Linked DNA regions of Homo sapiens: region 2 is linked to region 1. Evidence: fine-mapped expression QTL. A gene starts in region 1. The other region holds a variant in brackets. All regions are shown on one strand. Distances are from middle to middle. Region 1 holds the start of RNF38 (ring finger protein 38). Region 2 has its middle 64 kb from the start of RNF38.

Region 1 (8,125 bases):
TTCTGTTAGGAATAATCCAATAAAGAGAAAAACATGATGGTATAAAAGAGAATTTGTAGAGTCACATTCTTTAAAAGGTGAAAAGTGGGTGAGATTTAGCATTGAAGAATAGGCTGAATTTGTTCACTAGGTGATCAGTTCTAAAATCCTATGCAGTTTTTGTATAGTGGCTGCTGTTATTCCCATGTATTAGAATGGCAGAACACCAGAGTAAACAATCTCATTGAATAACTACCAGAACCATCTGAAGGAACTTCAGCATTTTCCTGTTCAGTAAGCAATGTTTTGATATATTTTTATTTTAAAATTGAAGGGACTCAAATGACTTGGGTAGCTCTGGAATAACAGTAGTCATTCACAATTTTCACTTGTCAAGAAAACCAGTTTTTTAAAGGGAGCCTCAGAGTCAGAATTCTCAAAAAGCTCTTGCCAAAAGCACCTTTTCTTACAAATGCTGTACTGTCCCGTAGCCCTGTGTGGCTTTAAAAACTGATCCTGGACAATTCATTAATTGGACTAGCCACATTTCAAGTGCTCAGTAGCTACATGTCACTAGCTAGTGGCAGCCTTTTCGATGGGGCAGATGTAGAATATTTTTGTCATTGCAGAAAGTTCTATTAGTTCTGCAGTGGGACTTTCCACCTTTGTGGACAGACACCAAATAAAATTTTAGCTTGACTGTAGTTAAGTGACTGCTCTGGTATAACTTTAGCCCCTGCCACATTAGGTGTCAAAGGTGGCCCACCACTTTAAAAGCCTGCCTGCTCTTTGGGTGTTTACTTGCATGGCTTAAGATTTTCTGGTTAAGAAATAAATTAGAGGCTGTGCATGGTAGTTCACACCTGTAATCCCAGCATTCTGGGAGGCCAATATGGGAGGACTGCTTGAGCCCAGGAGTTAGAGACCAGCCTGGGCAACATAGTGAGACCTGCCTCTACAGAAAATTAAAAATTTAGCCTGGATTGCCTGAGCCCAGGAGTTTGAGACTGCAGTGAGATGTGATCCAGCCATTGCACTCCAGCCTGGGCGACAGAGCACCGTGTCTCAAAATACAAAAAAAATAAAAAAAGAAGAAGAAATTTAAAACTATCCAACCTGGGGTTGTGACAGCATTGTTGAAGATCGTAACCATTTGAGAGGTTTCAGGAAGCTTGCCTCACAAAAGGTTGGCTGAAGCTCAGAGGGATTTGCTGAAGCTTAGAGGTGAGGAATGCTGGAGGACTGTAATAGATTTTTGCTGCTGAGTTCAGCACTTGAGGAATCTGCCTCTCTTACAGTTAGATAGCTCCCAAATGTAACTTCCCTTTCCTTTCCTGATGTTCTTCTCCCCTTTCCCCTCTCTTCACATAGTCCTATCCAAGCTTGGAGGAAAAGCTACTTCAGGGTGGTCTGCGTTCTGTAGGGAGGATTTTTTTTTTTTTTTTTAAGCTTAGATTCTGGTGGAAGATCTGTAATTGGAAGGCGAATCCACAGTAGATTGCGATTTGTGAGGGATACAGAGGATAGAAAATAGGATACATTGGATAAACTTAAAGGTATGGTTGGCACTTTACCTTGAAGTGAAACAAACAAACAAAAAAAACAAGTTTAGATGTGATCATCTCCAAACTGGCTGCTTTGGGAGAGAGCCAGCCAGCTGGTTAACTGGGTTACATAATTCGAGTATGGGTTTGGGGTGGATATGTTCATAGGGACCTAATACCTCTTTCCAGCTTCTCTTTGTTTGTCCTGGAATTCCAAAACCTATGATGTTATTGCTGGAACTTTGATTCAGCAGTTGCTAAACACCTTCTCTTGTGTTTCTGGCACTAGACTTGGGCCTTGGGTTTAGTTTACACAGTCCCAACAGAGTCTGGGTGCTCAGTCTGATATGGGAGACAAGTGTACATAAATAATTACCATATAGTGTTGTTCATAAAGAGAATGTCCAAGGTCCAGAAGGTCCTGAAACAACATTTACTCTGATTTCCCCCATTTTCTACTGGTTGCAGCTGAGGCCCAGAGAGGGAAAGAGAGACTGGTTTAAGTAATGCCAAAAGAACTAGAACTTGAAAACCCGAGTTTTCTGTTGACTGGTCCTTAATAATTTTACTCTACCACCCTAAAATATGATCACCATCCTTGCGGGAAACATCTAATTTCTGCTTTAAAAAGTCCACCCCTTCCATGATGTCCTCTTGACTGCCCTCTCTCCTTAAGTCTGATACCACTTTACTATTTTTTCCTTGTATGGATTGTGCTTTTGTGGAAATTTTTATTTTCTCTCTTGTATCGTGATTATCAGGACAGGAGCCAAGCCGGCTTCAATCTTTGTTCTTATTTCCCCTCCCCAAGCGACATCTGAGCAACTGTCACACTTAAGGAAGCCTCGGACAAGTTGGGTTCGAACCTGTTGGCTTGCTGCATTGAGAGACACCTTTGTGTACTGCAATAAAAATTCTTACTTTTCGGGCCACGTGAATGCATTTATGCTGTAAGAACTACGTGAGGTCAGTTACTGTTTGATTGCGGAGTTTTGTAGGTAGGAGGCACGGAACAGTAGCAACAATTTACTAAGAGAAAATCTATAGGAATTGGAACAGGGCCCTGCGGTCCGCAGGGCAGCGGGGGGCGGGCTGGGGCGGGGCTGCGCAGTGGTGCTGCGCGCGGAGCTCTGTTGCCGGAACTGGTCCGAGTCGTGCGCCGGGCCGCGCGCAGCCCCGCCCCGCCCCGCCCCGCCCCCTTCCCCCTCGGGGTGGAAACAAAGGGGGTTCGGCGCGCGGTGCGGAGCCTGGGGGAAAAGGGAGGAGCGCTCCGGTGGTCTGGCGCGCTGGGCTCGCTAGGTTTGTGCTGGCGAGGGGACGGGGTGGGACGGGCGACCCGGACCCAAGAAGTGGGAGGACCGCGCGTGTCGCGGCCTAGCGGCGAGGGGAGTCGCCTGCGCGCGCAGCGGAGGCCAGTGCGCCGGCGCATAGGGAGCCCGGGTCTGTGATCGCCGAGGCGGGGTGAGGCGGGGTGCGGCGGGGCGCGGCGGGGCGGGGAGGGGCGTGGCCGGGCCGGGCCCCTAGTGCGGTGTTGCGGGACGGGGCCGAGGCCCGGTCGGTTGGGGCGTGGGGGCGGAGAGGATGGAGCCTCCGAGGCGTTAGGCGACTCTGTCATCTCTGGGCGTGCAGCCGTCGTTTCCTGGCGCGGCCCGTGTGATGGTGCCGGGAGGAAGGAAGCGCAGTGACAGTGCCTAAGTTGGAGCCGGGGTTCCGGGGGTGAGGAGGCCCGCGGACGGCGGATCTGGCGAGCTGGCCGCGGGCTGGGCGAGCAGTCACAATAGGAGGCGGCGGCCCAGCGAGGATCCGCGGGAGCTGCCCGGCAGGGCGGAGCCTCCCCTCGCAGGTACTGGCCGCCGCGGCCGTTGGCTGCAGCGCGAGGGCGGGACGGGCTGCGGGCCGTTGAGAGCCTGCGGGGCCGCGCCCGAGTCTTGGGCTAAGGTTTGCCTCGGCCGCCCGGCGCTCTTTGTTCCCGCGGTGGCGAGGAGGCGCGGTCTCAGCTCGCGGAGCCGCCGGCCCGCTGCCCGGCAGATGGCCTCGCTCTCTCGCTCCCTCCCTTTTTGCCGAGACGCAGGTGAAATGATGTCACCCAGGAGAACGCGGAACCCGGTCGAAAGGGTCCTCTCTGGCGTCCTTCTGCTTCCGTGGGTTTCTGGATAGGCTGCGTTTTGTTCTCAGGGGATGCAAGTTCTTCCTTTCAGGGTTGAAGCGTGAGAGAGGTTGGTTTTTGAAACGGGAGTGTTTCAGGTTATTGAGGTCCAAAAAGAAATAAAGTTTTTGTTTACGTCTGTATGGCTTGTAAGGTAAAGTATTTTTCTTTGTGTTGCAAAAATGATATATGCTATTATTCAGTAAAAGTTGGGTATGCTAATTCTACCGTAAGTAGAAACACACACATGTAATTATTGCCACCATTATATGAATTGCCATTTCTTTTTTCTTAAGCGGTGGACTTAACGTATGAAAACTTAAATGTATACAAAGCTCATAATACAGTTGTTACCTTAGAGTTGCAAGTCTGCTGTATTCTGTTTGGCCTTGATTGCGAGTGTTGTTATACTTGAAAATTTACCGTAAATTTTTTTCAATAGCAAACAAACCTTGTATGTAGGCTTTAAAAAAAATTCCCTTTTATAGGGACAGTTGGAATCGAAGTAAAATTGTTCCTATCTTCAGGGAACACCGTCTAATGGAAGAAATAGAACTTTTGTAGAGATAATACGAAACCACATACATATAGATGTCAGATCAGGTGTGGGAAGCTGGGACACACTTGGAATAAAAAGATGAAATTTCTGACTGGAAGTTTACCTGGGAATTGTGTCACTTCAGATACTCCTTTCTCTGGGGTTTATAAATATATATTTATAATATATTTATTTATAATATGGTATTATATAATATATTATATATATTTATAATATGGTATATTTCACCTTTTGCAAACCTGCTAATCATACATTGTTCATTCAATTTTAAGTTGATTTTTATGATATTTCTGTAAGACTTATTTCTAAGAGATTTGAAGGCCTTAGCGCCTATAGTTGAATAAGTTCTGCCACAGACTCGTCATGTGGGCCTCAGGCTCTCATCTGTAAAATATAAAAAAAGTTGGACTTAAATAATCTGTGGGTTTTCCACCTCTGACTTCGTCTGTGATTCTAGAAGGTAGTTCGTATTTCCATACTTGTTGGGCTTTATATGCCCATCTTGTTTTTATAGTTAAATTGTCAAGTATTACTCTGGGTGAATATTGAGGAGAATTTTCTCTACTAAAATAACCTAATTTTTGATGAAGAGTAAACAAGATGGCATAGTCAGACATAACTGACTGTTAGCATCATAATGTAGAGTGTAGATCTGTTGTCTCTCTGCCAACAGCATTGGATGAGGCTTTTAATTCATGTTACATTCCTAGGCTGTTTCTGTTTGTGCTCACTTTCTTTTTTTGAGGCTGTGAGTGGAAAGTGTGGGTGAGAAATTCTTATGATAAAAGTTTCTGAAATGATTAGGTACTTGCTCAGTATGGAAAGATTATTGGTCAAGATTATGTCTTCTAGTTTATTCCACCTATTTCTCTGTACTACCTCTAGTTTGGTTTAGGCCACCACCATTTTGTAATTCATCTTGCTGGAAAGGTAGTTCTTAATTAGTCTTGATTGTTGCGTTGTGTTTGTTTTGGTTTTCCTGCTAAGAAAACATGTCAGACAGTTTTCACTTCCATTTTACTCTACTTAACTCACAGCCTTTTCTCTGGAAAGAGCGAACAGATTGTAAACATGGATTTGAACAGTATAGTTCTTGTCTAGTTCATCAGCAAACGTTAATTAATACGACGTTATCTAGAGGAGATAAAGCATTAATACTTGAACTCTATATAGTAAATTAATGAGAGAAATTTAGAATAAACAGATGAAGAAGAGGGGTCATGTACACAGTCTCTTCCCAACTCTTACATCTTTCATTAAAAAAATTTTTTTTTAATTTTAGTTTTTCCAGAAACGGGTTTTGCTATGTTGTCCCTTCTGGACTCGAACTTCTGGGCCCAGGTGATCCTCCTTTCTTGGCCTCCTGAGTAACTAGGACTACAGGTGTTTGCCATGGAGCCTGCCTGCCTTAGATCTTTCCCTTTGTTAAGGATCTGAACTTTTCACCTCTTCTATCTAGGTTATGGAGCCCTATTATCTTCTTGTAGTTCCTGTTATTAATTGTCCCTCACTAGACTGAGTTGCTTTAAGGGTAAGGACTGTTTCTTTTTCCCATTTTGTAGTCACAGCATCCAGCATATGGCAGGCAAGCAATAATTATTTGAATTATGATTGTTATTTAATAAAATTATAACTCAATCATACCTCTTTTTTCCAACTATTGTAAAACCCACAATTATTGTGTAAGTAATTATATGTGTGTGCGCCGTGTGTGTGTTTGGAGAGAGGGAGAGGGAGAGAGTGTATAAAATTTTTTATTGGTTTGGACTTTTGTGGTCTAGATATTTTTTCACATCTGTGTAATTCTTTGTGGTAACCAACCTAAGTAAAACGATTTTAGACATACTTCTTTGAGGGGAGAAAAATCTTTGTGTAGGCAAATTTAGATTTTGGAAGGGAAGGAAAGAAAAGTTTATTTAAAATATGTAACTCTTATTTTTCCTACCCTTTATTTCTGCATTCTCTGTGTAATGGATAGAGGATTTCTTTCGTTGCATCTGTTTTCTTTTCCCTTTTCCTTCTTTTTCATCACCTTATGGGATTGTGGACTGGGGAAAGGAAGTAGGGGAGCCTTAGGCTGTTTTCACACACCCTATTTCTGCTGTGCTCTCAGAAAGAGATGGGTCCTGTTTGTTTGCCTAACTCAAGAGTGGGAACCATAATTTCTGTTTAGAAATGATTGTCCGGTGCTGGGCAGTAATGAACATCCTCACCCACATAGTACCAGTCCTTGAATGGTTTCTCCTAATACTGCCTATTAGCTTTTCAAAATTATTTTTAAATTATTTTTTAGCTCACGCCTGTAATCCCAGCACTTTGGGAGGCCGAGGTTGGTGGATCACCTGAGGTCAGGAGTTTGAAACCAGCCTGAATAATATGATGAAATCCTGTCTCTACTAAAAATAAAAAAATTAGTCGGGTGTGGTGACCAGCACCTGTAATCCGCTACTCTGGAGGCTGAAGCAGGAGAATTGCTTGAACCCAGGAGGTGAAGACTGCAGTGAGTCAGGATTGTGCGAGTCAGGATTGCGCCACTGCACTCCACCCTGGGCAACAAGAGCAAAGCTCTGTCTCAAAAAAAAAAAAACAAAACATATATATATATATATACACACACACATATATATACGTATATATACATGTGTATATACGTATATACGTATATACACACACACACACATATATAAAGCAAATTGTGACCGTTGTGTAGTGAGAGAATGATTTTTTTTTTATTCCTTTCAGTCTTTTTCATGTGTCATTTGTGTATGAGAACTGTTGAAGCTTAGAGATGAATGACTTAGAAATTTTGTCTTGGATCTCAAAGGGTAGTAACATCTCAGAGGGTCAGTTCTACCCAGTGTTTGGACCTCAGTTTTCCAGAACCAGGCTCTCGATTTTTTTTTTTAAAGAAGCTTTATTAAGTTATGTTTTATATACCATAAAATTCACTCCATTCAATTAGATTTTTTTGGTTACATTTTGAACATTTCTGTCATCCCCCAAAGATCCCTGTGCCCATCCAGGCCTGCCTTTTGCATAACTCTAAGCGTGCACAGTCCCATTCCTGTTTGCAGTGTTCTCTCCTGGACCAGCTTTGAAGAATGCCATCCGGGACTTTGAGTACCCCTGCTCCACACTGTCAAAATCCTTTCAGAGAACTCTGCTCCCAGAAAACAAAAGCCAAGGAAACAGATTTGTTTTAGGCCCAGTGATAGAACTCTTCTCAAAGGAAAGGTGACATTTAGGTCTAGTTTATTCTCAGAACAGGGAAAAAAAAAAATCCTAGCAAGGAGCACAGCATGCATCAGTAGCTCAATGATTTATTCTGCCTCAGTAGGATGGGGTGGACTTACTGGGCAACCACTGACTTCATTTAATGGTAACCTGCAGGTGAGTGCATCAGATCTCTTCCTTGATCAAAGCTTTTAGCTTGTCTCATTGCCAACCAGATTTCTAAGAAACTTGTTACACAAATCAGAAAGGCAGGCTGTTACATCATTTGCTTACAGTTTGGAAGATTATTCTTTTAATAAATAGTTGAATGCCTGCTATGTGCCATGTACTCTTCTAGGTGTTAGTGACATTGTGCTGAACAGGACATGGAGCTTATACATGTTCTCCTGAGTGTATGCTCAAGTCACCTCATTGATTTGGCTGCTCTATTTAATCTTTATAGGGAGTTCTCTGTTTTTCTTCCTAATATTCCAAGATAACTTTTTTCTTGAATTTATGAAGTCCTGTTCATATATAACCCTACCTTATGATCATAGCATTTAAATAATTTTCTCCTCCCCCAAGTAGTAGTGTTTCTGGTTGCTACTTTTTAATGGCTGCATAGTTCAAGCAAGTGTACCGTAATTTTACTTAGCAAGTATTTGTTAAACATTTAGGTTGCTT
Region 2 (8,125 bases), 65 kb before region 1:
ATCCACCTGCCTCGGCCTCCCAAAGTGCTGAGATTATAGGCGTGAGCCACCACGCCAGGCTCATGTATTTAATTTTATAAAAAGTTAAAAGAAATCTGGGCTGGATATCTTTTCTTTACCTCTCCAGATCCATCCTCTACTCTTTTCTACCTGGCTCTTTGCCCCAGATAAAGAACTCTTAGGCCCTCTGGATTGAAGGGCCAGAGAAGGAGGTCAGAATATTTATCCCTTCACCTCTCAGGGTAGCATGTATTATATACCTGGATTCTGCGTTCTGGTAATCTCTGTCTCCTATCTTCTTTGGCACTTCTAGAAGCAATACTTGTTCTGCCTTTTTTTTTTTTTTTTTAAGACAGAACATTGCTCTGCCCAGCAGGCTGGAGTACAGTGGTGCGATCATGGCCCACTGCAGCCTTGAGCTTCTGGGCCCAAGCAGTCTTCCCACCTCAGCCTCTTGAGTAGGGACAACAGGCGTGCGCCACCACAACTGGCTAGTTTCTAAACATTTTTTGTAGAGGTGGAATCTTGCTGTGTTTCCTAGACTAGTCTTGAACTCCTGAGCTCACTCAGTCTTCCCACCTTGGCATCCCAAAGTGCTGGGATTACAGGTGTGAGCCACTGTTGCTCAGCCTTGTTCTGCCTTTACTAGTCCTGATTTCTGTTCCATCCCCATGGTTTCTGTAGCCTCTATTCCCCTACTTTGTAATTATTTCTTTTATAAACAAACCCTTCTCAGATTATTCTGATTTGTATTTGCCATCTCTTTACTTTTGGGACCTGACTGATGGACCCTCCATTCTTATTCCTCTCCCCACTATAATCCCAGAGGTGGTAACAGGTACCATTTTGGTGTGTGTCCACAAATTACCTGTGTGAGAGGCGCAGGCATTTGTGTATAGAGATGATGCATGGAAGTGTACATTAATTGTTGAAAAAGCTATAGTGGGTTTTATTATTGCTGCTAATGGTGTTATTATTGGTAGTGATGTTATATCCCAAATGGCCTGACCCACCCAGTTAGTGACTCTTGAAGCAGAGAGCAGCAGAATCATAATCTGACCTCCTTATTGTCATATTGAGGAAACAGGCCCACAGAGGGCTAGGCTCTTCTCTCAGGCCCCATAGCTCAGAGCTGCAGCCTCCTTGCACTGGGCTGTTTTCTCTTGCTGCATAATTACTCTCCTTAATTAGTGATATTCAAAGTATTTTGAATATATACTCTGAAAATCTTGAAAAATTTTAAGTAGACATCTAATTTTTTTCATAATTTTAAATAGTTGGAAAAGATAATTTCACTATTACTGTTACCCATATATGTATGTGTGTGTATATGTGTGTGTGTGTGTATATATATATATTATATATATATATATGTAATAGCAATCAGATTAGTTGCAGTTGTTTTTTTTTTTGAGACGGAGTCTCGCTGTGTCGCCCAGGCTGCAGTGCAATTGTGTGATCTCGGCTCACTGCAACCTCCACCTCCTGGGTTCAAATGATTCTCCTGCCTCAGCCTCCTGAGTAGCAGGGATTACAGGCGCGTGCCACCACGCCTGGCTAATTTTTGTATTTTTAGTAGAGACGGGGTTTCGCCATGTTGACCAGGCTGGTCTCAAACTCCTAACCTTAGGTGAAACTGCCTGCCTCAGCCTCCCAAAGTGCTGTGATTACAGGTGTGAGCCACCGCAACTGGCTGTCTTTATGCCTTTTCAAATTTTTTTATAAGTAGACATTATTGTCTTCTGATTACAAAAATATACATGGCAAAATTTAAAATGTTATAGAAATGTATATTAGAGAAAATAAAAGTTCCTTTATTTGAATCCTGCAGAGGTCAGTGAGGATTGGATATGTGTATATTCATGTAGTGTTGTGTATAAATTTACAAAAAGTGGGACCATAGTATATATATTGTTCTGAAACTTGCTTTTTTCCCACTTTATAATAATGTTGGGTCTCTTTCCAAGTCAGTATTTATAAATTTATTTTTTGAAACATTTGTTTGACATACGAAATACGTATAGAAACATTCATATCTTGTAAGTTTGCAGCTCAATGAATCATCATAGTGTGAACCCACGTGTGTAACTACCAAGCAGGTCAAGAAATAAAATACTAAAACTACGCTTTATGAGCCTCCCATTGTGCCTGCTACCTCATTCTTAACAGCTTTATCGAAATATAAATTTACATATACAATTTACCCAAATAAAGTATACAATTAAGTGGGTTTTGGTGTATTCACAGTTGTGTAACCAGTACCACTATCTAATACCAGAGCATTTTCATCTCCCTGAAAAGAAATCCTCCACTCATTGGCAGTCACTCTCCATTTCCTCCCATCTCAGTCCTAGGCAACAGCTATCTACTTTCTGTCTCTGTAGATTAGCCTGTTCTGGACCTTTTATATAAATGGAATCATACAATTTGCACTTTTATGAACAGTACTGGCTTCTTCCACTTAGAATAGATAGTATTTTCAGGTTCATCTATGTTGTGACATGTATCAGCACTTTGTTACTTTTTTTTACTTTTTCACGAGACAGAGTCTCGCACTGTTGCCCAGGCTCAAGTGCAGTGGCCCGATCTCGGCTCACTGCAAGCTCCGCCTCCTGGGTTCACACCATTCTCCTGCCTCAGCCTCCTGAGTAGCTGGGACTACAGGTGCCTGCCACCATGCCCGGCTAATTTTTTTTGTATTTTTAGTAGAGACGGGGTTTCACCGTGTTAGCCAGGATGGTCCCGATCTCCTGACCTCGTGATCCACCCGCCTCGGCCTCCCAAAGTGCTGGGATTACAGGCGTGAGCCACCGCGCCCGGCCAGCACTTTGTTACTTTTTGTAGGTAAATATTAGTTGTATAGGTGTATCATACTTTACCCATTCATCAGTTAATGCACATATGGATTGCATCCTATTTTGGATGATTATGAATAATGCTGCTATGGGCCGGGTATAGTGGCTGATGCCTGTAATCTCAGCACTTTGGGACGCCAAGGCAGGCGGATCACCTGAGGTCAGGAGTTCGAGACCAGCCTGACCAACATGGAGAAACCCTGTCTCTATAAAAATATAAAATCAGCCAGGCGTGGTGGCGTATGCCTGTAATCCCAGTTAGTCGGGAGGCTAAGGCAGGAGAATCGCTTGAACCTGGGTAGTGGAAGTTGCAGTGAGCCGAGATTGTGCCATTGCACTCCAGCCTGGGCAACAAGAGCGAAACTCCATCTTGAAAGAAAAAAAAGAAAAAAAGAATGCTGCTATGAACACTTGTGTACAAGTTTTTACATGGACATATATTTTTATTTCTCTTGTGTAAACACGAACCCACCCCTATGTAGGAGTAGAATTACTGGGTCAAATGGAACTCTAAGCTTAACCTTTTGAGGAACTGCCGTGCTGTTTTTTAAGGTTGTTACACCATTTTATATTCCCACCAGCAGTGTACGAGGGTTCTAATTTCTCCACATTGTTGCCAACACTTGTTCTCTGTTATCTGTCTTTTTGATTATAGCCCTCCTAGTGGGTGGGAAGTGGTATCTCCTTCTAGTTTTGATTTGCATTCCCCCCATGGCTAATGATGTTAAGTATCTTTTTGTGTTATTGGTCCATGCAGATTTTAAGAAGGCTTTTAAAATTCTCTGTCAGAGGCAGAGCACTAAATAGTATCTTTTTGAGTCCTCATAATTGTAAAACAAGCATTTTAGTACATTTGCTTTCTTTACTTTTTTCTTTGCAAATCTGGAATTTTATGTTATCTTTATATATTACATATTTTTGGAAATGATTTTTAAAAATGTTCCACACAATTATGTAGCCAGATTGATCACAGTTATTTAGATTTATCTGTATTTTAACTTGTTTTGCCATTTCCTTCCATTCTTAGCTATACAGTGTATGTATATTAATTTATTGGGTGAATATTGCAGTTTCCAGGATTTGTGTTTTCACAGTTTGTTTAGGGTTACATGAGTAGATATATATGACTGATAATCTGATACAAATATGATTTTTTTTTTTTTTTGAGACGGAGTCTCACTCTGTCACCCAGGCTGGAGTACAGTGG[C/T]GCGATCTCAGCTTACCACAACCTCCGCCTCCCAGGTTCAAGCAATTCTCCTGCCTCAGCCTCCTGAGTAGCTGGGATTACAGGTGTGCGCCACCACACCTGGCTAATTTTTTTTTGTATTTTTAGTAGTGACAGAGTTTCACCATATTGGCCAGGCTGGTCTCGAACTCCTGACCTTGTGATCCGCCTGCCTTGGCCTCCTAAAGTGCTGGGATTACAGGCGTGAGCCACTGCGCCCGGCCTAAATATGATTTCAAATTATAATTAAGGCTTGCATTTCATCTACATAATGCAGAGCTTTGATCTTGTCAGAAATTAGAAGATAATTTTTTTTGTGTGGTTTTTTGTTTGTTTGTTTGTTTTTTGAGACAGAGTCTTGCTCTGTCGCCCAGGCTGGAGTGCAGTGTCGTGATCTAGGCTCACTGCAATCTCCACCTCCCGGGTTCACGCCATTCTCCTGCCTCAACCTGAGTACCTGGGAGTACAGGTGCCTGCCACCACGCCCGGCTAATTTTTTGTATTTTTAGTAGAGACAGGGTTTCACCATGTTAGCCAGGATGGTCTCTATCTCCTGACCTCGTGATCCGCCCGCCTCGGCCTCCCAAAGTGCTGGGATTACAGGCGTGAGCCACCGCACCTGGCCTAAGATAATAGTTTTTGGTCACTTATTTTTCTGAGGACAAAAGAGTAAGTGTGAGCTAGGGAGTTTGCAGAGAAAAATAGCTTAGTCTCTTCTTGGTGATTAGAGAGATGATTAGGGAAATTAAATAGACAGACTGGAAAGCATGGTTCAATTATTTGGAAGAATTACCTAATCCCAGTGCACCATACATACTTGCCTTTGTTCAAATGTAATATGTACATATCTTTGTATTTGTGTGATTCATCAGTACCATTGCCCCCTTCGTGACCACGTCTTTGCATTATTACAAATGATTTTTTTTTTCTAGTGTACCTTGCTTTACCCAAAAGGTAAACAGTTCATATTGAAAATTGAATGGAAATGCTCTTGAATTTACAAGGAGACACCCAGCAGAATGGCATAATTGTGAGTTTTTCAAGGCCTACGTTTAGATCATTGAAGAACTAGTATTCTATTTCATGGATCCAGAAATGAGACTTTCCTGCATTCCTGTGAGTGATCAGACTCATATTATCTAAATAACAGAAGGCTTGTATCAAACTGAAAGTGCCAGTTTATTACTTCATAATGTGCGGGGCCTTTCTCCTGACTTACATGCAAGAAACAAATGAGTGTCTACTGTGTACCAGGCCTACATACTGGCTACACAGTAGTGAACAAAAGCAGGTAAAACCTCTACTCTTATGAAGCTTACATCCTCATGATGTGAGACAGACAGTAAGCATAAATATGCCATAAGGATGATAAGTGGTAAGAAGAAAAACAGATCAGGGTAGGCCAAGATAAGCAAAGAATGAAAGCAGGTGCTATTTAAATCACTTGACCAGGCTGCTCTGCCTATGGAGTAGCCATTCTTTATTCCTTCACTTGCTTAATAAGCTTGTTTTCACTTAAAAAAAAAAAAAGTAAATCAGGGCGGGGTACAGTGGCTCACACCTGTAATCCCAGCAGGGGAGACTGAGGCAGGCAGATCACCTGAGGTCAGGAGTTGGAGACCAGCCTGGCCAACATGGTGAAACTCCGTGTCTACTAAAAATACAAATATTAGCCAGGTGTGGTGGTGCCCGCCTGTAGTCCTAGCTACTCGGGAGGCTGAGGCACGACAATCACTTAAACCTGGGAGGCGGAAGTTGTGGTGAGCTGAGATCATGCCACTGATCTCCAGCCTGGGCGACAGAGCAGGACTCTGTCTCAAAAAAAAAAAAAAATCAATCAGTTGGTCAGAGAAAGCATCATTGGTGCAGTGACATTTGAGCAGAAATTCGAAGGAAGTTAGGCATCAAGCTGTTTTAAGTGCAGAAGCCCTGACGCAAAAGTGTGCTTGCTGTATTCCATGAACAGGAGTGTTCAGAGGTAAGATGGTGACCTTCTAGACTATTAGGGATACTTTGTTTTTGACCTTTGTTCTGAATGAGATGAGATCACTGAGCAGAGGAGTGGTGATATATGGTATGACTTCCCTTCTAGGATCTTTCTGGCCGCTGTGCTGAGAATGGGTTGTAGGAGGGTAAGGATTGAAGCAGGAAAAGCAGTTGGAGGCTGTTACGGTAGAGCAGGAGAGAGATGAGGTGATTTACCTGCATCTTGGTGATAGTTGGGAAGTTTGCTAAGTTGCATACAGGCTGGTTGGTGTATAGTCAGTCACCCTTCAGCCCTCTTTGACTTAATCCTTTATTCCAGTTCCCTGAAACTGCTCTGCCAAGGTCATCCATAATGGTGGGTTGCCAAACCAGTGGATATTCAGACCACATCTTACTGCATCTCTTACCAGAGTTATCCACGTAATTTATCCTCTTTCTTGGATCCCAGCCTGTTGGCTTCTGTAATCTCATAATCCTTGTTTTCCTCTTACCTTTGCATATACTTTTTGCCAACCTCTTTTCCCGGTCACTGCATGTTTGAGTTCCTCAGGGCTTGGGCCTGTTTCTTCATCTCTCTTCTGTGTTTTCTGGATGATAGCATTTGTTCCCAAGGATTTAAATATCATTTATGTGCTGAGAATCCCCAAATTTGTATTTTATAGGGAGTTCATACTTCACATGTCCAAACTGAAATTATTATCTGCAAAACTATTTCTCCCCTTAGTTTTTTCCATCGGAAATGCTTAAACCAGGAATCTAGGAGTCATTTTTGGCACCTTTGTTTTTCTTACACACCACTCCCCACCACATTCTTGTCCTTTCCAGCACATCTCCAGAATGTATTTTGTATTGTTTCACCTCTTTTCACTGAAGCTATCCCATCTCTCCCCCTGAACTGCCACAGTAGCCTTTCAGCTGGTCTTCACACTTGTCTGGTCTCCAATTTTTTTCTCTGCATAGCAGCCAGAGAAAGCTTTTGAAAGAATGGGTCACATGGTTACTTAAACTATTCAGTGGCATCCCATTGCACTTGAATTTACAGTTTTTCCTGTCTCTTCCAGGCTGTTTTCTCTGCATAGAACACTCTTGTTCTACCCTTTGAGTACTCAGCTCCTTCTCATCCCTGAGCTCTCAGCTTTCTTCTGAGGCCTTCCTTGACTACTCAGTCTAAAGAAGGTTTTACCTCTCTGCTCTGTCATTGTATTCTGGTTTTCTTTTTCCTTTATAGCATACAGCTTACCACTACTCATTCATGGCTTTAACATCCCTGACCCAGAGTTTTTGTTTGTTTGTTTGTTTGTTTTGAGATGGAGTTTTGCTCTTGTTGCCCAGGCTGGAGTGCAGTGCAGTGGTGCAGCCTTGGCTCACCGCAATCTCCGCCTCCCAGGTTCAAGCAATTCTCCTGCCTCAGCCTCCCAAGTAGCTGGGATTACAGGTGTGCACCACCACACCCAGCTAATTATTGTATTTTTTAGTAGATACGGGGTTTCCCCCATGTTGGCCAGGCTGGTCTTGAACTTCTAATCTCAGGTGATCCACCTGCTTTGGCCTCCCAAAGTGTTGGAATTACAGTTGTGAGCCATCGCGACCAGCCTCCTTTTTTTTCTTTCTTTCTTTCTTTTTTTTTTTTTTTTTTTTTGAGAGAGTTTCCCTCTTGTTGCCCAGGCTGGAGTGCAATGGTGCAATCTCGGCTCGCTGCAACCTTCACCTCCTGGGTTCAAGCGATTCTTCTGCCTCAGCCTCCTGAGTAGCTGGGATTACAGGCATGTGCCACCACGCCTGGCTAATTTTGTATTTTTAGTAGAGATGGGGTTTCTCCACGTTGGTCAGGCTGGTCTTGAACTCCGAACCTCAGCTGATCTGCCTGCCTTGGCCTCCCAAAGTGCTGGGATTATGGGAGTGAGCCACCGCGCCTGGCTCCTTTTTTTCTTTATATGTGTGAATGTCACTGATTAAGCTAGTTGCTGCTTCCAGTCCATTAAGTGTTCTGGGACTAGGAAAAGTCTGTTTCCCACCACTGTGCATTGATTTACCTTACTTTCTGGATCAACCCTGTTCT

Evidence for each region.
Region 2: its variant is fine-mapped to the expression of RNF38 in whole blood (TOPMed, PIP above 0.99).

What each region holds. Positions count from the first base shown.
Region 1 is chr9:36,395,795-36,403,919 of GRCh38, reverse strand. RNF38 (ring finger protein 38) reads left to right here and starts at 3,651. Exons shown (of 12, transcript NM_022781.5): 1 at 3,651-3,823. The coding sequence starts at 3,812. It overlaps LOC124902152 (a long non-coding RNA gene), which reads left to right. Exons shown (of 2, transcript XR_007061475.1): 1 at 1-2,026; 2 at 2,335-2,455. RefSeq lists silencers at 2,592-3,051, 3,082-3,411 and an enhancer at 3,622-3,691.
Region 2 is chr9:36,460,466-36,468,590 of GRCh38, reverse strand. It overlaps a transcript of RNF38 not described here. Among named protein-coding and RNA genes, the nearest start is that of RNF38, 64 kb to the right of the region's middle. The variant C/T (reference allele first, on the strand shown) is at 4,063.